Linked DNA regions of Homo sapiens: region 1 is linked to region 2. Evidence: fine-mapped expression QTL. A gene starts in region 2. The other region holds a variant in brackets. All regions are shown on one strand. Distances are between the middles of the regions. Region 1 has its middle 93 kb from the start of LINC02948. Region 2 holds the start of DUSP4 (dual specificity phosphatase 4).

The links.
Region 1: its variant is fine-mapped to the expression of DUSP4 in whole blood (INTERVAL, PIP above 0.99). The same link has a PIP of 0.9 or more in blood mononuclear cells.

The regions. Positions count from the first base shown.
Region 1 is chr8:29,463,924-29,474,884 of GRCh38, reverse strand. No RefSeq gene overlaps it. Among named protein-coding and RNA genes, the nearest start is that of LINC02948, 93 kb to the left of the region's middle. RefSeq lists an enhancer at 5,267-5,636. The variant A/G (reference allele first, on the strand shown) is at 5,295.
Region 2 is chr8:29,345,264-29,356,224 of GRCh38, reverse strand. It overlaps DUSP4 (dual specificity phosphatase 4), which reads left to right and starts at 5,541. Exons shown (of 4, transcript NM_001394.7): 1 at 5,541-6,379. The coding sequence starts at 5,947. It overlaps LOC124901924 (a long non-coding RNA gene), which reads right to left and starts at 5,251. Exons shown (of 2, transcript XR_007060876.1): 1 at 4,691-5,251. RefSeq lists silencers at 546-844, 5,034-5,173, 5,364-5,683, 7,254-7,423 and enhancers at 4,624-4,733, 4,774-4,843, 5,542-6,041, 6,364-6,513, 6,042-6,543.

The DNA.
Region 1 (10,961 bases), 120 kb before region 2:
TAGCTGGGATTACAGTGGGATGTGCCACCATGTCTGACTAATTTTTTGTATTTTCAGTACTGACGGGGTTTCTCCACGTTGGTCAAGCTGGTCTCGAACTCCCAACCTCAGGTGATCCACCCGCCTCGGCCTCCCAAAGTGCCGGGATTATAGGCATGAGCCACCATGCCCAGCCTAATTTCTTATCTTTACATTGAGGATACTCAGTTGTGAAAAGAAACAAAGTGATGTGCCCAAGATTACAGTGCTCAGAGGCAGCACTACAGGAAAACCCACAGCTCCCGACCCCAGGTGGGTGAGGACTCTGAACTATAGCCACACCACTTTCTAAAAGCCCTCACTCTTCCCTGTACCCCCGATCATGACTCTCCACCTGCCTAGTCCTTCCCGTCTATCTTTTATGCATGGAGGCTGGGGACTGACCCTTCACAAAATGGAAGCATTTTGAGATTATATTTTCAAATCTAGAAACATCATTTTAAGTTCCTAGGCTTACAGCCAGATTTTCCCACTGAATAGTACAACTGGATAACTTGCATCCCATTTGCCAGACTTTCTTCGATAATCTCCTTTCCTCTGCCCTTTATTTGGGAGGAAAATAAGTCAGAAAGAAGGAACAAAGAAGTTCTATGTGCACGGAAAAATACAGAATCCATCCCTGGCCATCAAGGCCTGGCTGAAGCCCAGGAGAAGGCTGAGAACTGTTTTAAAGAAACAGGCTCATCTAGAGGGATTCTCAGGCTGACAGGACTTGTTCAGGGTGTGAACTGAAGATCTAGCCTTTGTGGGTAAATTGCTTAGGTCAATGAAGTATGATGGAAAATAATGTCACACTTCATTGTGATAATCCCAAATTGGGAGAGCTCTTAGACATGGCCCAACACAACTCCTTGCACTGTATAATAGATCCTTAGCACTCTGCTGCATGATGTTCTCAGTTGCAGCTGTTGACACATGATCTCAAAATCCATGACATACTCTTTTGTAATTATGAGGGAGTACAAGTTTGAATCCAAGTTTTGAGCCAGTGGTGAAGGAGCAGGTCAGTTGGCTAAAGAGTTGGCCTTGCTAAATGCCCAACTCACATACTTTGCTGGGGCCCTAATATTTTTCTTCTGACCCAAATTTCTAACATTAAATTCTGTTATAACGGTATCTGTATGTGTGGGGATTTCCAAAGTATCTAGTAAGTACTAGTAAATACTCTAGTAAGTATTTTTCCCAAATATCAAAGATTTACTCTGTAAAACCTCTCGCCATGGAATCCCTCAGAGATACTCATTCAGCCTCCGGTTGAAGACTGAAACAGTGAAATCTTTGACCCACTAGCCTTAAAATTCTTTCATCATTCTCTTAGCAGTTTACCTGCTGCCCCTCTTAGTCTTCAGCTATATTCCTTTTCTTTCATTATTGCTTTTTTCCTCACTTGTCTTACCCAATAGTCTTTCACATTGCCACTGGAGGGTCCTTTCAGTGCTTCACAAGTATGGTGGAGGGTCTCAGCTTCCCACAGCAGAGATTCAGATGCATATAGCTTGTTGAGTTAGGTGGCATTCCATACCATAGTATCCTCTATTACCCACTGAGTTCCATCTAGTTAGAAGCACACTAGGGAAAAAAATTGTGATTATGTCTGCATCCGTGGTGTGAGAGGCAGCCCCACTGAGGAGGCCACAGGTGCCTGGGGAGAGCAGCCCTACAAGCAGCAAGCTGTGGTTCTGGCCAGAGTGGGAAGAGAATCCCAAGAGACATATACCCCAGAGGCCAACACAGAGTGGTGGGACAAGAGGCTGCCAAAGATCATTGTCTACATTAAAGATACCTCCAGGGAACTCCCAGGCATTCTACAGGAAGGAGAAGACTAACCTTGAAAGGCTCTTGGGGTTCTACAGTTGACAGGGTGGAAAGATCCAGCATAATTGGGGCCTGGATAGTACTGTGATGTAATCTTATTTTTCTTAACATTTGTGAGGTCAGGCAACATCGAGTTTACCCACCCAGGAAAGGGTTTGTAGACAGTTTCTCAACCATTCATAGAAAGGCGAGTACCTTCATCTCTCTGTCAACCACTGTGTATGGTTTGCACAAATACAGCCATAGAAGAAGTAAATCATAGAAAACAAGCAGGTGTGTAAACTCTTGTTGGGCACCATGGAAAACGTGGTTTGCCACAAGATAGTGGGGCTCAGAAATGATCCCACCAAGAGATATTTAAAACTGGGTGATGCGTGGGCTGGGTGCTGTTTTCAGTGTTTTCTCATTCAGAGGAGCAGCATTTTTGCCTACCTGTGAACTCAGACCCATCAAACCTCTAGTTTACAAATCAAATCCCATGCACTCTGGAATGGACCTGTCTGTCAGTGATGTCAAAGATGTCCCTGAGGGCTTTCAACAAGGTGATGTCACCTTAATGTTTTCGATTTAACACATTTCCTTTCCATTGACTCAGCCCTGACACTGTCTTACGTTCTATGATGAGAAAGCAGGGGAGCAGAGGCCAAGGCTATCTCTTCCTCCTCTGAGGATTGAGGGGACTGTGTATGTGCCAAAAAATAAAAAATAAATGCTGCTTGGCATAGTAGCACGCACCTGTGGTCCCAGCTCCTCGGGAGGCTGAGGTGGGAAGATCATTGAGCCCAGGAGTTCGTGGCTACGGTGAACTATGATTACATCACTGCACTCCAGCCTGGGTGACAGAATGAGACTGTCTCTAAAAAGTATTTTTTATAAGTAAAAATAATAGTAACAAATAAATGTTTATTGTTTTAAAAAAAACTGAAGAGTATAGACATATATAAAAATTAAAATTAAGGCCAGGCACAGTGGCTCACGCCTGTAATCCCAGCACTTTGGGAGGCCAAGTTGGGCGGATCACAGGTCAGGAGTTCGAACAAGCCTGGCCAATATGGTGAAACCCTGTCTCTATTAAAAATACAAAAATTAGCTGGTCATGGTGGCAGGCTCCTGTAGTCCCAGCTACTTGGTAGGCTGAGGCAGGAGAATCGCTTGAACCTGGGAGGCAGAGGTTGCAGTGAGCCAAGATCATGCCACTGCACTCCAGCCCGGGTGAGAGAGCGAGACTCCGTCTCAAAAATAAATAAAAAAATAAAATAAAATAAAAGTCCAATATTTTCCAATAACCCCACCCAAATGCAGACAATTCAGACCCCTAAGGTAGACACTGTTAAGAGATTGGGATGTGTGTTTTTATTTTCTAAGAATATACAAGTACTCCCCACCAACACATCAAAAAAATGTAGTCACACTAAACACATAAAGTGGACATCCTACTGTTTTCTTTTTTCTTTCCTTTTTTTCTTTTTCTTGTTTTTTTTTTTTTTTTTTTTTTTGAAACAGAATCTGGCTCTGTCACCCAGGCTGGAGTACAGTGGCACAATCTCGGCTCACTGAAACCTCCGCCTCCCAGGTTCAAGCAATTCTCCTGCCTCAGCCTCCTGAGTAGCTGGGACTACAGGCGCACACCACCACACCTGGCTAATTTTTGTATTTTTAGTACAGACGGGATTTTACCATGTTAGCCAGGCAGGTCTGGAACTGCTGACATCAGGTGATCCGCCTGCATCGGCCTCCCAAAGTGCTGAGATTACAGGCGTGAGCCACCGCACCCAGCCCATCCTACTGTTTTCAATCAAACTCTGTCTTGGACAGCTCTCCATGTCAGTATCTACAGAGTCTCCTTATTATATTTTTTAATAGCTGCATGGCTATCCCATTCTATATATGAACCATATTTATTTAACCTATCTTTTATTAATAGACATTTAAGTTATTTTGAGTTTTTTGTTATTACACGGAATGCTGCAATACATATCTTTTGTACAGTTATCCTTGGAGATGTGTATAATTTATTTCTATAAAATAAATTTCCTGAAGTAAAATTGCTGGATCAAAGGTGTCTTAGTCCATATGTACTTCTATAACAAAATACCTGAGACTGGGTGCCATGGTTTGACTGTTTATCCCCCTCCAAAACTCATGTTGAAATACATTGCCAATGTAATTGTATTGGGAGATGGAGCCTTTAAGAGGTGATTAAGACACTAAGGCTCCACCCTCATGAGTGGGTTTAACTATTTTTTTTTTTTTTTGAGGCAGGGTCTTGCTGTGTTGCCTAGGCTGGAGTGCAGTGACACGATCATGGCTCATTTCAGTCTCAACATCTTGGGCTCAATCGATCCTCACACCTTAGCCTCACAAGTAGCTGGGACTACAGGTGCTCACCATCATGAATGGCTAATTATTTTATTTTATTTTATTTTATTTTATTTTATTTTATTTTATTTTTATAGAGACAGGGTCTTGCTATGTTGCCCAGGCTGGTCTCAAACTCCTGGGCTCAAGCAAACCTCCCACCTCAGCCTCCCAAAGTGCTGGGATTACAGACATGAGCCACTGCACCTGGCCTAATACCTTAGTAAAAGGACTTTCAACAGTAGGCTGTTTCACTATTCTGCTATGTGAGGGACAGTGTTTCTCCATTCGGGAAGATGCAATGCTCCAGGCACCATCTTGGAAGCAAAGACCAAGCCTTCACCAGACACCAAAACTGCCAGTGCCTTGATCTTGAACTTCCCAGCCTTCAGAACTGTGAGAAACAAACTTCTAATGTTTACAAATCACCCCGTCAGTGGCATTTTGCTATAGCAGCACAAAACAGACTGAGACTTTGGGTAATTTATGAATAATAGAAAAGTATTTCTCACAGTTCTGGAGGCTGGGAAGTCCTAGATCAAGGCACTGGCAGGTGAGACTTGGTGTCTGGTGAGGGCTGCTCTCTGCTTCCAAGATGGCACCTTCTTGCTATGTTCTCACATGGTGGAAGGGGTAAACTCTATGTCATCAGACAGCAAAAGAGATAGAAGGGCCAGGCAGCTCTCTGAAGCCTCTTTTATAGGGGCACTAATTTCATTCACAAGGTCAGGGCCCCCATGGCCTATTCACCTCCAAAATGCTCCACCCCTTAATACTATCACACTGGGTCTTAGATTCCAACATGGATTTTGGACAGACACAAACATTCAAACCATAACAAAGGAGAGGTGTCTATTTTTTTACTTTGATGAATACTTTCAAGAGGCTGTACCAGTTTATAGTCCCTATGAGGTGGCTTTTACAGGTACAGAGAGTGTCATATTTGCAGTAGTGATGTGTCCCAACCTTGCTTACTTGGCTTAGCAGTACAATCCTGTCCTGATCAAGACTGAAAGAACTCTCTGGTGTCTTGGCCTTTGGAAATTCAGCAAGTTTACCTAGCTCTGCCAGTTTATTTATGG[A/G]CAAGGTGGTCCTCAGCAGTTACGGGGGTGGTGGTGTTTCAGAATGACAGAAGTTTGACACAGTTGGGTCCTTAGGGAGATAATTGAATCAACCACCTCATTTGGCAGCTGAGCAAATGGAGCTGTGGGTGGATGCTGTCTCTGGGTGCATGTCACCCTGTCCCCATCCTCCTGCAACGTGGGTGTGCAACAGTCATGCTCAGAATTTCTGGGTCTTTCCAGCGAAACCTCATGGGGGGAAAACATGCTCTCAGAAGTGCAGCTGCCACTAAAGGTTTGAGAGATGTTCTCAAAATGTACACCATCCCCAGCTGGATATGTAGTACCTGTCTGGTATGATCATAATGATAAGAGTATATTTGTTGAACAACAGATTGAAGTAGAAACTACTTTGTGTGGCATGACTCACCCTTCAGCATGTCATCTAAGGGGAGTATCTCCCATCCAAACCTTCCTGCTTCAGCCCTTAAAGTTGGAACTTCTTCCCTTTCAAAAGACCCTTGCAGAAGTAGGAGAGTAAACATCTACCCATGTTTTCAACTACCAATTTTTCCAACTCTCTCACTCCTCAACAAATCAGGAAGCCTGGTGTCTCTGAGTGGCGTCTCTGAGTGGTCAGATTGGGAAGGAGGAACAGCCAAACCTAGCCCCCTGTCTAGGAAGAGTCTGAAGGGGTCATCGAGCTCTGACTATGGGTACGCATCGGAGTGGGGATGGATGGGTAACTTGATTTGAGCTCATGGTGGCTGTAGTTCCAAGCTGTGTCCTTAGCATAGCTCATCAGTAAGGTAATATTTTCATCTGACCCCTGTTTCTATATCTTGACTGATGCAGAACTCACAGGAAGAAAGGGGTTTTATTTATTGGCTCTCTTTTATCCACAGCATCCTCCCTCAAAGACTCTGGGCCTAGAAGCTCAGGAAATAAGTGCTCCATGGTTTTCTACATGCAGTAGTGCTGGGCCACAGGTCCCCCATTCTCTTTAACTTCAAGGATCAGGCATCAGGTTGAATTGGGTCTCTCAAGTGTGTTCAGTTAGGTGGTACCCCTTTCACCTAGACGGGTAGGATTAGGAGCTAGGAACATCCTGGAACAAATGTAGGCCTATTAACAAGGTGGGCAGAGGTGCCAGCAAAGACAAACTGCAAATAAGACTTGTGAGACCAAATACACACACACACACACACACACACTTGTGGTAGTGGTAGAAAGAGAAAGAAATTAGAAAAGAAAAAAATATACAATTGAGCCATATGTCTTGAATTGTTAGGAATGTTCCCGGTATATCCTGGTGTTGGGGGAGATCCAAAAACAAATTGTAGACTAATGGGTTTACTTCAATTATATTTGGGTAAAAACAAACCAAAAAAGAATCTACCTATATGTAAATGTGCATTTGCATCTGTTTGAAAGAACAAGGGAAAAATTGGAAAGTCTACAACAGGTGTTAGCATTGGCAGCTCAAGGCGATGGGGTTGAAGATGAGGCTAAAGGAGATGATTTGCTTTTACTTTGTGTATCTTTATATGATTTCAATTGTTAGAATAAGCATGTATTACTTTTGTATTTAAAAATATTAATGGCTGGGGGCAGTGGCTCACGCCTGTAATCCCAGCACTTTGGGAGGCTGAGGTGGGTGAATCACCTGAGGTCAGGAGTTCGGGACCAGCCTGGCCAACATGGTGAAACCCCGTCTCTACTAAAAATACAAAAATTAGCCCGGCATTGTGGCCGGCACCTGTAATCCCAGCTACTCGGGAGGCTGAGACAGGAGAATCACTTGAGCCCGGGAGGCAGAGGTTGCAGTGAGCTGAGATTGTGCCATTGCACTCCAGCCTGGGTGACAAGAGCGAGGCTCTGTCTCAAAAAAAAAAAAAAAAGAAAAGAAAAAAGAAAAAGAAAAATATCAATCAATGAAGGAGATTTGGTGAAAATAAAAAGGAAATGTTAGTTTCAAATTTGTATGTTTCTCTGTATTTAGGGGTAAAGTAGAGAAGGAAAAAAAAGGAAAAGTGTAGAATAGTGTCTGTCATATGATCTATTATGTCAACAAAAAAAATTCATTCATATATACAATGGTATATGCATCAAAATATCTTTCAGTATCATTTAAAATATTTGTTGAAGTGTGTAATTCTTTCATTTGTCAAAAAATTGTATTTATAAATAATTTATAATACAAGGAAACAATGCTCATAATGTCTTAAACAAAAGAGTAGTATATGAAACTGCTTATAAAGTAAAATTTCAGTAGTGAGGTAACAGTAGGGGAAAATGCACAAAGGACTAGATGAGAAAAATGCCAAAATGTTAATAATGATGGTGAAATTATAGGTGATGTTTCTGAAAATTAAAAATGTGTCCTCTGACAGGGCACAGTGGCTCATGCCTGTAATCCCAGCACTTTGGGAGTCCGAGGCAGGCGGATCACCTGAGGTCAGGAGTTCAAGACCAGCCTGGACAGCATGGCAAAACCCCGTCTCTACTAAAAATACAAAAATTAGCCAGGCATGGTGGCGCACGCCTGTCATCCCAGCTACTGGGGAGGCTGAGGCATGAGAATCACTTGAACCCCGGAGGCTGAGGTCGCAGTGAGCTGAAATTGTGACACTGCACTCCAGCCTGGGTGACAGAGTGAGACTCTGTTTCAAAACAAACAAACAAAAAAAAAAGTGCCCCATGGGCATGACTTTACCTCTGTTTCAATGAGGTTGGGACAGGCTTTGCCTAGTGGTGGATGGAAGCAAAGTCTAGAACCACAGCATCTATTTGGTATCTCTCTAAGGTCACAAACGATGTCTTAGCCACAGGCTAGAACACGCAAGGGAGGGTACAGTAAATGCTATCCTGGCGGCACAAAGAGAAAGCAGCTACCAGCCTCTGCCCTAATGGCAGGATCAGTACCCTTTGCTCTGAGTACAAGCAACATAATTAAAGACAGAAAAGAATCCACTGGGCTTAATGGAAGTGAGAAATATTCCATGCAAAACAGCTGCCTGGATTCAAATTCCAGGTCTGCAATTTCGATCAGTTGTAAGCTTCTTAATCTCTCCGTATTTCCATTTTTTCATTGGTAAAATGGGAGTAATAATAATCTATGCCTCATAGGATTATTATGAGACCTTAATGAGTTAAGAGATGTGAACACCTAAAGATAATGTTTTTCAAATAGTGTTTGTTATTGTTATTAATATTATTATCCTTTTTACATTTAAAAATGATATTAATACTTGATTTGTCATCATTCCTTTAATAATTACTATGATTTATTGAGCACCTACTATATGCCAGGTACCATGAGGCATTTTGTTTACCTTAGATAGGATTCATCTTTAGGACTACCATTTAAGTATTTAATGTTACAAACCCCATAATAAAAAAAAATGAGGCTCTAAAACAACAGCTCCCAACGTTTTTAGCACCAAGGACCAGTTTTGTGGAAGACAATTTTTCTATGGACCGAGATGGGGGGGATGGTATTAAGATGATTCAAGCCAATTACATTTATTGTGCACTTTATTTCTATTATTATTACATTGTAATATATAATGAAATAATTATACAACTCACCATAACATAGACTCAGTGGAAGCCCTGAGCTTGTTTTCCTGTAACTAGATGGTCCCATCTTGGGGTGATGTGAGACAGTGACAGATCATCGCGCATTAGATTCCCATAAGGAGTCTGCAACCTAAATCCCTCACATGCACAGTTCACAATAGGGCTCGGGGTCCTGTGAGAATCTAATGCCGCTGCCGATCTGACACGAGGCGGAGCTCAAGCAGTAATGCTGGCAGTGGGGAGTGGCTGTAAATATAGATGAAGCTTGGCTCACAGGCCCCTGGCTCACTTCCTGTTGTGTGGTCCAGTTCCTAACAGACTATACAGACTGATACTGGTCCATGGCCCAGGGGTTGGGGACCCCTGCGTTAGAAGATTGTTTTTCTGGGGTCCATACCTAGTAGGTGGCAGAACTAGGATTCAGGTCCAAAAATCTCCACCTCTAAAGTCCAACAAGCTGTGTCTACCATCAACTGTGACTCCTGCACTATCTAAGGTATTTACACATATTCAAACACAGAACATCTCTTTGTCTTTACCATCTGTGAATTAACCAAGAAGAAGCCAGTTTTGCTGTCCTTACTTAAGAACCAAGTGATCTTCTGCCAGGTGTGCTCTCCAGCCACCCAGCCAAGCAGCCAAGGCAGCCTCAGCCCTATCCTTCCACGCGTGACTCGCTGGCACTTGGCTCAGAAGTGCAGGGAAGCTTCACTTTATTCCATTCTGCAAACTTGCAGATAAACTCAATATATCTAATGGACTCACTCTTTAAAATGTAATTTAAGTTCCTATTGGTTAAAAGAAAAAAGTTCACAGCAAACAGGCGATAAAAGAAAAAATAGGTAAGTTGCACTACATCAAAATTCAGAATTTTGAGCATCAAAGGATACTACCAAGAGAATGAAAAGGCAACCTACTGAATAGGAGAAAATATTGCAAGCCACATATCTGATAAGGCATGAATATCCAGAATATATAAAGAACTCTAAAATTCAACAACAAAAAAACTCAGTTCAAAAATGGGCAAAGGACTTTAACAGACATTTCTGCAGAAAAGATATACAAATTTCCAATAAACACACGATAAAATGTTCAACATCACTGGTCATCAGGGAAATGCAGATGAAAACCACAATGTGTAACCACCCAGACCCATTAAAATGGCTATAAACAAATGAACAAATGGAAAAAAAACAAGCTGTGGAGAAACGAGAATCCTTGTACATTGCTGGTGGGAATATAAAATGCTGCAACCGGAAATGAAATAAAACAATAGACACTGAGCCCCCCAAAAATGCTGCAGCCATCGTAGAAAATAGTTTCTCTGTTTCTTAAAAGGTTAAACATAGAACTATCTTTTTTTTTTTTTTGGTGTGGGGGGTGTTATAAATTTAATAAAGAGTTTAGCCAGAAGGCAAAATTTCATAATGAACAGAGGTTTTAAAAGAAGGAAACAAGTCACCCAATAATAAAATTGAAAAAGGCCATGGAAAGATAATTCATAGAAGAGAAAATCCAAATGTTTCACCAAGCATATATTAATGAAAACATGCTCTAACTCACTTGTGGTGAGTTATAAATAAGTAATAAATAAAATAAATCCAAGAGTCTGATTATGAAAGATTTTGTGTGTTCTTCAACTAGAACTATCATATGACTCAGCAATTCCACTCCTAGGTATAAATGCAAAAGAATTGAAAGCAGAGACTGGAGTAGATTGTTTGGTTATCAGAGTTCATAGCAGCATTTGTCACAATAGCTAAAATGTAGAAACAACCCAGGTAACTATCAACAAATGAATGGATAAACAAAATGCCATATAAACATGTAATAGAATATTATTCAACCACAAAAGTGATTCGAATTTTAATATATGCAACAAAATGGATAGGCCTTGAAAACATTATGTTAGTAACACAAGTCAGATATAGAAGGACAAATATTGTATGATTCCACCTATATGAGGTACCCAGAATAGGCAAATTCACAGAGATGGAAAAGGAGGTAGGGGAAAATATCGTGATGCATGTACTACTGTACATTCACATACACAGCAGTACCTGGGGAAAAATATGTTGATACATGTGCTATTGTATACATGAATGT
Region 2 (10,961 bases):
TTAGCTCCCTTGTAGTTTCACACCAATTGCTCATCTATTTTTAGCAGGCAAACCCACTGGGGAAGAGAGATGCTAACAAATGAAAGGAAAAGAATACAAGGCACAAGGGCAGAATGAATGTCAGAGGTGAGATAACAGTTTAAAAAAAAAAAAAACCTACAAGAGAACTCAAGGACATTTCAAGGATAACATTTAAGTAGATGAAATGCACTTTATTCATGATGGCCTTTTCCTCCATTTCCCTAATCTCACAACACGGCTCCATCCCTTTCTCTTCTGAATCTTCCTGGCATGCTGTTTGTTCTCTAATGACACTTTGTTAGATCCTGCTTTCTGGCAATGTACAGTGGCAATCACACCCTGACTAGACCAATGAGACTGTCAGCTTTTTGAAGGCACAGTGTTTTGGACAAATCTGTCCCCCTACTTCCCGCACCTCTTGCTGAGTCTAGCACGTTTGTTGAATGAATAAGAGAATCTGCACAGCTAGAGTGACCCCAAATAACCTAGTTTTGTTTTGTATTGTTTTGTTTGTTTGTCTTTTGAGATGGAGTCTCGCTGTCTCGCCCTGTCCAGGCAGGAGTGCAGTGGCCCAATCTTGACTCACTGCAACCTCTGCCTCTCCGGGTCAAGGGATTCTTTTGCCTCAGCCTCACGAGTAGCTGGGACTACAGGCACCCACCATCATGCCTGACTAATTTTTGTATTTTTAATGTTGGTCAGGCTGGTCTCCAACTCCTGACCTCAAGTGATCCGCCAGCCTCCCAAAGTGCTGGGGGATTACAGGCATGAGCCACCATCCATGCCCAGCCTCCGAGTTCATTTTTATCCCGTTTGGAGAAGTGTTTCTTTCCAAAATTTGTTTCTGAAATTTTGAAGACGTTTTATCAAAATGCTTGGGACGTTAGCACGTGACTAAACAAATAAATAAAAACTATGAGCTCTGCTGTCCATGAGTTTATATTCTAAAGCAGGGACAAGGAGGAGCTAGAGATCGTCCTTTATCTTATGGCATTATAGTGTGCTTGGCTCTTCAGAGGGCGAGATGGGAAACCTATGAAACTTGGACTCGGAGCTGAGAAGTCTTCTTCTGCTCAGAATCATACAGGGTCGGAAATAGACCAGACCTGAGAAACCATCCTGCCCAAACTCTTCATTTTGCAGGTGAAGAAAGTGAGGCCAAAGGAGACTGTCTTGCCCAAGGCCACCAAGCTAGATGGTGGCATAGCCTAGATTGAATAGTTTTAAAATAAAGCAGTAAATAAAGCAATGCATTAAAACCTTTCTGCAGAGACCCTGGGTTAGAAACTTAATCTTTTATTATTTTTTATTTGTATTTATTTATTTATTTTGAGATGGAGTTTTGCTCTTGTCGCCCAGGCTGGAGTGCAGTGAGGGGATCTCAGCTCACTGCAACCTCTACCTCCCGGGTTCAAGCGATTCTCCTGCCTCAGCCTCCAGTGTAGCTGGGATTATGGGTGCGCGCCCGTCATGCTGGCTAATTTTGTATTTTTAGAAGAGACAGGGTTTCACCATGTTGACCAGGCTGGTCTTAAACTCCTGACCTCAGGTGATCTGCCCACTTCGGTCTTCCAAAGTGCTGGGATTACTAGCGTGAGCCACCTCGCCTGGCCGATACATAGCCTTTTAAATCATTAATAAGTGCTAGAGTATCAAGCATAGAAAACAAAAAAGATCTGTAACAAAGTCAGGACTTAAAAAAAGAAATCCTCAGGCTATGTCTTTGAGAGTTTTTGGTTAGGTTCAGTGTGAACTTTGAAGACTTTCCTTCGCTTTCAGTCCTGACTTGATGGGCAGAGGTACGTAGGGAAGGACAGGCATTTCTCAATTCCATTTCTAAACGTTGCCTAAGAACACGCTGTGTAGACCACAGGCTTCTCTGCTTTCAGGAGCAGGAGAGGGTCTCCCAGTTCTTTTGAGCCTTCCCACTACCAGGGGGCAAGTTCCCTAATTAGTTGATCTAAGAAGCCTAACCAACAAGATCTGTGCAAAATGGATTATTCCTGTTCCAGTTCGACGTAATAGCAAGGCTGCCTCTTTGCTCAAGAAAGGAAAAGCCACAGGACTTTTCTTTCCATCACCACCTTAATTAATTCATTAATGATTTTTCAGGCAAGTTTTATTCAGGCACTTTGGGACAGAGCAGTGAGTCAGAGGTTGGCATCAAAACTAGAATAGAAGCTGTACTTCTCTCTGGGGATTCTACTCCGGGCTTTAGATTCCCCGATCATACAACTTCCTAATTGGAAAGAAATGTTCCTAAACAAGAGCAGGTGTTTTGCTGGAGCCTGACAGTGACTAATAAGGTCGGTCTAAGGACTGACTGATGAAAGAGAAGCTGGATTTACTTGTCACAGCGAATTTTTAAAAGTTCTTTCACCCCGAGGTTTACTGCTGAATATAAATAAAAGACCTCTCCTTGGGCAATCCCATCCCAATTCCTACAAATATGCCTTAGTTAATTAAATTAACTTTGAAATGACATTCCGTGTCTTGCTCCAAATTGCCTTTGTTTTCTCCAAGATCTGCTCATTGACAAGCTGTTTCACAAGGTTCCTGTTTAAAATGGTTATGTTTCGTCCACAGACTGCAGACGAATTGGAGACAGGTTTTATCTATAGCCGGCATGGAGTAGCCCTCGCGTTGTACTCATTTAACTGTGGACCAATGGTTCACAAACATACAATTAAAAAATATATATCTAGGGTGTTTACACAGTATCCCGATAAATACAATATGGTAACTTAAATCTCCTTTGCTGAAATTCACACAACTGAAGGCCAATTCCTGAGTTGGCAATGGGGTGTGGATTTTAAAAATTAGTCTTTTTTAAAAATCAGGCCTTCGCTTTCGCAATTCAAGTGGCTCTCGGCTTAAACACATTAAGTCCCAAGCTGTGACTCCCTTCCAGTGAACAGCCGCGTAGGCGCGGGCACGCACACGTGGACACACACACTCACACGCGCCCTCCCACACCCCTTTCCGTGTGAATCGCCTGCGGGATTTAGGGCTTCTCCACCAGCGATTACTGTCAGGTGCAGAAAGCAAGCCTCTTTGTTCTATGGGCATTTTCCTCCCCCTGGATTTGACTGTTATTTACTGGCCACGTGAGCGCCAGGCGCGGGTCCGGCGGGGAAGGCGACCCCAGAACAGGGTAGACAAAAGCTGGCCCAGAGCGCGACCCGTGCGCCCCAGGGACGTCTCCCCAGCTCCTGCGACACGCGTGAAATTGGCCCGGACCTGCCTCCTGAGAGGCTTTTCCCAGAAATGTCTTGTTAAAGCCTTTGTAAAGGAATCAGTGTTTACTTGCGCCGGGAGAGCTCCGGCCCTGGGTCCTGGCAGGCGGCGGATTTCTGAGCTGCTGGAGAGCAACCCGGGAAAGCAAAATCAGCCTTGGACTGTCGGGGCCCCTGGGGCTCCTTGCTCCTTATCGAAAGCGAGTTATTAGATAGACCCCCACAGTCCCATTCAGCAGAATGGGAAACTGGACTCAGACACCTTTTGCCCTCCCCACAGGGAGGCCACGCCGTGCGGCTTTGACCACTGATCTCCCACCCGGAGTGCCCGACGCCCAGGGTCCTGCCACCGGGCAGCCTCGGTCAGTCCACAGTTGTGGCTCCTTCCAGGGCCTGGACTAGGGTGAGCACAAGCCTTGAGCGCAACATTTAAGAAGGGCGCCGAAAAGTCAGTAATCAAAAGAAATATCTTGATGCAATGCCTCTTTAAAAGAAAAAAAAATGCAAAAAATCCATGATGAATAAAATACTAAATTTTAAAAAGAGAAAGGATCCGTGCAGTGCCATCGTAAGCCATTTTGGAGCCCGGAGCAAAAGGAAATATCACCTTGCCCAAGCGGTGCCCCTACAGCTCATCCGAGTAGGGCCCGGGGGTCGAGGCATTCGGGGCCCAGTGGGGGACGAGGCCAGTCGAAGGTCTCGGAAGTGGAGGCTCCGCCGAGCTCCGGTCGGGGAGTGCAGGGATGGCCCCCGGGACCGGAGGTGAGAGCTCGGGAAAGCCGCTCCGCCCGGAACAAAGGCATGGGGAGAGGGTGAGCTTGGGCGGGAGAGACCCGGCGGGTACCGGTGCCCTCGCTGCCTGGGTCGGGCTTCCACGCGCGCCCCGGAATGGAATACGCTACTCTGCAGCCTCCGAAACTGCGAGCGAGTCCTGTAACTCCCTTGCTCTGTGATTAATTCTCACTAACAAGACTTGGCAAGATGTCGGGCGAATGATTTTTGGCTTCTGCACGGTCCCCACCGCGTGCGTGCACAAACCCCCAGCCAAAAGCCGCCTCTGGGAAATTAAATGCAAAAGAGAAATGGGGATGGGGAGGGCTGCTACGTGACCAGGAAAAAGGGATGCCCAGAAACATGAATCGGACCCAGAGCTGCTGAAGTCCTTTCAAAAGGTCATTCTTTGCGGGTACATTTTCCAGGGTCCAGCTCCGCAACAAATGTGGACCCTGTCATTTCCTGAAAGGATAATTCACAACTATGCAAGATAGGGTGAAGACGTTTCCCAAACCCGAAAACCTTGTTTTTCCCCCGACCAGGGTTAAATAAACATCTTTTAGGAAGCGTGGACAGGAGCGCAGCCTGCTCTCCTCCCTCGGAACACCATTCCGGCAATTAATGCCTCCCTTTGGGTAGTAAAGCAACAAACCCCACACCTCACTCCGATCCTGGGCTTCGGGCGGGAGGACTTTCTCTTTCATCTTCCAAGCAGGGGGTTGCCCACGTTCTTGGGGAAGCTATAAAACTGATTTAATGGCTTTAGATGAAAATCGATCACGCTAATGCATACGCTAACGTCTCAGGAATCGCATATTCAGAAAGGACTGGCCGGGCCGAAAGCGCACGGGGAGTCTGGGGCTAGGAGGTGTCAGGCCCCGCTGGGTGGGCAGCAGCGCTCCGGTCCCCTCTCCACTTGGGTAACCGGGAAAAACCTACGGGGCTGTCACGCGGGGAAGCGCGAAGGTGCCAAGGGATGAAAGCTCAAACCCGAGCCCTGGCCTCCTCAGCCGGCTATTTCCTTTGGCGCCGCCCGCCTAGCGGCGGGGTGCAGCGGCGGCACAGGTGCCGGTGTCGGGCTGGAGGCGCGGCGCAGGCTGGGCCCGCGGGTAGACGGCGAAAGGCGCCGCGCGCTCCATTCACAAAGTCCGGGCGCTGCCCGCCGCTGGCGGCGGGTCGGAGGCCGCCTCCCTCTTCCTCTCGGCCTCGGTTTTATGAATGGGCCTGATGGCGAGCACCCGGCGCCCTGTTTACTCCGCTCTTTGTGACGTCGAGTTCCCGTGACCGGGAGCCAGCGGCCGCGCTCCATTCAAGCTCCGGGGAGGGGGTGGGAGGAGGGGCCCGGAGGGGGCGGGGAGTCAGCGCGGGGGGCGGGGGACAGCGCGGGGGGCGGGGGACGGCGCGGGGCCCGGAATGGAACGGGGCGGGGCCTGGCGGGGTAGTACCTAGCGCCCCCTCCCCCGGGAGCGCGGAGGAGCATTAATAAACCTCTAAGCCGAGGAGAAAACTCTGGCTGGGGCAGTGCGCTGAGCGCCGGAGGAGCGTAGGCAGGGCAGCGCTGGCGCCAGTGGCGACAGGAGCCGCGCGACCGGCAAAAATACACGGGAGGCCGTCGCCGAAAAGAGTCCGCGGTCCTCTCTCGTAAACACACTCTCCTCCACCGGCGCCTCCCCCTCCGCTCTGCGCGCCGCCCGGCTGGGCGCCCGAGGCCGCTCCGACTGCTATGTGACCGCGAGGCTGCGGGAGGAAGGGGACAGGGAAGAAGAGGCTCTCCCGCGGGAGCCCTTGAGGACCAAGTTTGCGGCCACTTCTGCAGGCGTCCCTTCTTAGCTCTCGCCCGCCCCTTTCTGCAGCCTAGGCGGCCCGGGTTCTCTTCTCTTCCTCGCGCGCCCAGCCGCCTCGGTTCCCGGCGACCATGGTGACGATGGAGGAGCTGCGGGAGATGGACTGCAGTGTGCTCAAAAGGCTGATGAACCGGGACGAGAATGGCGGCGGCGCGGGCGGCAGCGGCAGCCACGGCACCCTGGGGCTGCCGAGCGGCGGCAAGTGCCTGCTGCTGGACTGCAGACCGTTCCTGGCGCACAGCGCGGGCTACATCCTAGGTTCGGTCAACGTGCGCTGTAACACCATCGTGCGGCGGCGGGCTAAGGGCTCCGTGAGCCTGGAGCAGATCCTGCCCGCCGAGGAGGAGGTACGCGCCCGCTTGCGCTCCGGCCTCTACTCGGCGGTCATCGTCTACGACGAGCGCAGCCCGCGCGCCGAGAGCCTCCGCGAGGACAGCACCGTGTCGCTGGTGGTGCAGGCGCTGCGCCGCAACGCCGAGCGCACCGACATCTGCCTGCTCAAAGGTAAACGAGGGCTCCGGGCGCTAGCTGGAGTCGGGGAGATGGAGGGGGTCTTGGCGGCCTGCGCCTTATTGGCACGGGAAGGAGTCCCCGGCGTGATTCGTGGTTGCGGGGATCCCCGCGCGCCCCTTTGTGTGTGTTGGTGTGTAGGGGTTTGCAAGGTTTCTGTGCAAGTGCGAGGTTCAAGTCCTCAGGGAAAGTGCGGACGGGTTTCTCCGGTCACCTGCAATTCCGCACCGTCCTAGCGAGGCCCCGTTTATTGACATTAACGGTCCTAGCCTCGAGGATGAAGCGACTCCTCTGCGCGGTCCATCTTGAGTCCCGGGAACAGTTTCCAAGTACCACGGGGCGCGTGGGGACAAGATAGGCCTGTTGGTTTGGCGTGCTGGGGCCCTACACTGAGCCGGACCGGGAGAATCCCAGAGGTGGAGAAAAGGTGAAGAGGGGTGGGCGCCGAGGTACAATTGGCCTTGCCAGTTTCACTGAAAACAAGACCCTGGCAAATGCAGAAAGGGAGATTGGGTTGCACACACTGTGTAGAGCGATCTGTATCTGCGTTCCCGCTGCCCAACTCCAAGCTCAGCTTGGAAGGTGGCCAATCCCCGTCCCGGGCTAGATCCAGGCTCTGGGAGCGGGAGGCTGAAGGACTGGGTATCTGGGGGACGCCGGGCGGAACCGGTCCTCTAGCGCCTGCAAATCCGGGCAGCGGAGAATGATCACCTTTTGTTCAGCCCGGATTTTCGACTATCTGATGGCGGCGCGTGCCGGATTTTAGCGAGCCCTGGCGAAACTCTCGGCGGCGAGACTGTCTTGTCACATTTGGTAGTCGGAAATCCTGGAAAAATCGCGTGCTGTCCGAGTCCCTGGAGGGACCTGGCGCCCGCCACACCTGCAGGGCAGGGTGGGTCCGCGGCCCTCGGGCTAGGGAGCGGGCAGGGCGCGTGGGGTCCGGGCGCCCCCCGCCGCGCTGCGCCTCCGCCTCCCGCCGCCGCATTCCGCGCATTCTTCCGCGCGGGTAGGGTCTGCGCTTCCGAGCCCGGTAGGCAGTTCAGACCCCCCCACACCCATCAAAGAGCCGCTCCTCCCCCCCGCAGGCGCCTTCGCCGCCTCCCTCCCTTCCTTTCCTTTCCGCTCCTCTTCCGACCTGTCCACCCGGGAGGAAGGGAGCTGGAAAGGGGGCGGAAACCTCTCCCCTCCAAAAAGCACAACAAAACTGTTCAGTGCGGAGGAGCCGGGTTCGCCCCTGCCGGACAGCGGGGGGCTTTGTTCCCCGCAGTTGTTTCCTGCCCATTTGACCTGTCAGCTGCTGGGGAAACGCTGCTGTTGACCTTTGGTTGAACTGCTAAGGCGATTTTGCTGATTTTTCTTTCTTTTTCCGCGAGGGCTGTCTTTTGCTCCTCCAAATGAGCCCAGTCCCCCTCCCTTCTCCCCAAAGCGCTCCAAGAGAAAGTGCCAGGAAGGGGCTTGTCCCGGAAGGCCTGGCGGCTGAGCGGGGCCAGGTCCTGGTTAGGCCACCAGGGTGGGCGTCCGCGCCATTGTTTGAGCTTGTCGGCGCTGGTGGGAGAGATGAGGGCAATTCCTCTGGGACGCAAGTCCCCTCGAATGGCCGGGGCTGGCCGGGATGTTCCCCGCACGGCGCTGCCCTCGAGTCCCCCCGATGGAGAGCGCGGGCGCGCCTTCCTTCGCTGGCGTCCAAACCCGGGACCAGCTAGAACACAGCAGGGCTGGGACTGGGTTCCAGCCCCACGTGGAGTCTGGATTTGTTTTGTTGTGTTTTGCTTTCCTTCCTGGAAGAAATCCCGAGGGGACCGCCCTAGAGCGGCAGCTCCAGGACCTCGGCCCTTGGGCTTCCGGGGGTGCAGCCACTTAGGCCCCGCTCCCGGGGAGAGAGGGATTATTTTTTAAGATTTATCCCCAGGGCGCGCGGCATTTCCCTGTCCCTCGTGAATCCCGTTGAGAGTCCTCCCTCCCCAACCTCCTCCATTTCCCCAGCCAGACCGATTCGAGAGCCCTGGAGATTCTGGGCGAGGCTAGTGACTGGGTAGTACAGGCCTCTAGGTAAAATGACAGCCCTCTGGTGGGTGGCGAGGTGCCTGGCCAACATAAGAGAAGTACTTTAAGGGCTGTTTCCTCCTGGAGCCTGCACTGCCTCTCGTAGTCGGCCCCGACGCGGGCAGGGAGAATCATCTTCTGCATCTCAAAGTGGACATCCTTGCAGATGGAGGTGTGCAGGCCTGGGCCACAGATTTAGCTTCGGTCTCTTCTAGAATAGCCCCTCCTAGCCAGAAGTTCAGCTTCTGCTTCCAAAGGGAGCCTGCCCTTGGAAGCAAGCACCTAAAATTGAGAGGTGGGGGAATCTTCCAGCCTGCTCTGTTGTGGTGAACATCGTTGAGGTTAACTGGGCCCTATTCGGTTTAGCTTAGCTGATTTTGACATATGTGTTCAGCAGAGGCCATCTTTAACCCAGTTCCTCTTCTTCCTCTTTGCCCTCTAATGGAAAGGCATCCCTAGAGAGGTCAGAAGGAAAAAGTCAGTATCTGCTCCCACAGCTCTGCGGGAAGGGGCTGGGGAAGGAAATCAAGGTGTCTCCCAGGTCTCCAGATACACCTCCCTTCCATGCCTGGAAGCCAGTGCAGTGGAGCAAATGTGGTTTCCCGGGAGGGGGCTCTGGGGCAGAGACCTAAAGGGGAATTTTGAGAAGCAAAGGAAGAAAAAGCCCCTTAGATTATCTTTAGTAAATGCCTGAATTGGTGAAGGGTTGGAGAATTTGTTTCCTACTGGAGTAATTCATTTTATTTTCCAGCGAGGGAATGTATGTATGTCTCATTTCAGGTGTGCCTGTGCGTGTCTGTAAAGCAGGACAGGAAGCCAGTGGAAGGCTTGATGGTTGGTGTCTGCCATTCTTGGAGGGGTTAGGAGAAGCAGTAAAAGCAACAAGAGTATTTTCAGAAGTGATAGTAGCATGTCCAGCCAAAGCTATCTAATTCTATTAATTGCATTTTAAAATTCAGTTTTTCTATTTCTGCCACGTTGAAGGGTTACTTCAACCACGTTGAACTGGTTACTCCATGCAGGTGGCAGGAGGTAAACTTCGCTTAATATCAAGAAAGTACAGCCTAGCCTTTACATTTCCTCAGATTACCCGACTTTTGCTAAAAGCAATAACGAAAAATCTAATGTTTTCTATCTTTGCTAGTAAAGGATTTCCAGTGGGGTAATTTTTTTAAAACTCATTTAATTTAAAATCTTGTAAGGCATTTTTAGAGTCAGTTTGGAAATTTTAGTTTTTCAGATTTTATCACAATACACTTCTTGAAATCCCTTTCTCTCTCATTCGTAAATCCTTGGATTAGAGTTTGAGACTCCCCTGGTCATTAGAGAAAGACAAAAAGAGCTTTTTCTTACCCTATTCTTTGCCTTTATTAACCCCAAATAACAAAATAATCTGTTATGCAAAAAGATTGCAGGTATAAAAACATTACCTTCCTTTCCACCTACCTAAAACTTCCCTCAGCCTTTGTCAGTTCTAATTTAAAAGCTGTCCTGGAGCTGTTGGAGAAATGGGGAAGATCATCTAGATATTCCAGTTTCTCCTTCCACTCACCCTATAGTACCGGATAGCATCCAATAGCCCAGGGCCTGACCATACAGCCCATGATATTACCCTTTCTGTAGAAAACAGTCACTAAGGCCACTGATGAATGTGGGGGGAGAGGAACACAATTAACAGCTCTGGAAACTCTGGTGACATTTTTCTGTTTTTTCTCTCTCTAGCCCCACCATTGCTCTCTCTGTCTTCAGTTCCCCAGGAGGGCAATGGCATCAAACAGCACAGCTCTGGGGGATGTCAATATTGCATACCTTTTCTACCTAAAGGGAAAATGACTCGCTTTTCTGCTTGCAAATATGGTAGTTTCTGCTTACAAATGTAATACAATGCCCATGACAGCCAAGGACTGGAAGCATAAGTTGCTAGGTCTTACAGGTGATTTTTTACAATGAAGCAAACTCACTATGTTAGACACCATTTACATTGGATGTCTCCAACTAACAAAAGTAACTAAAGACAGATGTAGGTGTAAATTGAGAGTGAAATTTGACCCTTTAGACCGTCACAACTTCCTTGGGCTTATCCTGGGTGCTTATAGGAGAGGTGGGCTCCACCCACAAAAATGGACTGCTCAGAAAAATGAGGGAGAGAGAAAGGGTGGCCACTTTCCCGAGCCAAGAAATTCCTTGAAAAAAAATCAGAACATCTGAAACCAGAGAGCCGATTTCCTTACCGGGAGGCAGTTCCTGGCTAACGAAGAGGAAGCACGATGGGAAGAAAAGTTCACTCCAACGGAAGCCAGTTTGCTGAACATAGCAGATCGCCCAGGAGGACTGGGAGAGACTGCAAACCAGTTCGAGCCCCCAGCATGGCGTTAGGTGTCAGCCAGCTGGCAGGAAGGTCCAGGTGTCTGTGTTCAGAGTCTCAAGGTGAGAAGTTCACTTAGTTGGATTTTAAATACAGCTCAGCATTTACATAGGTGCTTACTAAGTCAACAGTCACATAAAGTAGAGTTCCCAAAGGCAAATGGCCTTC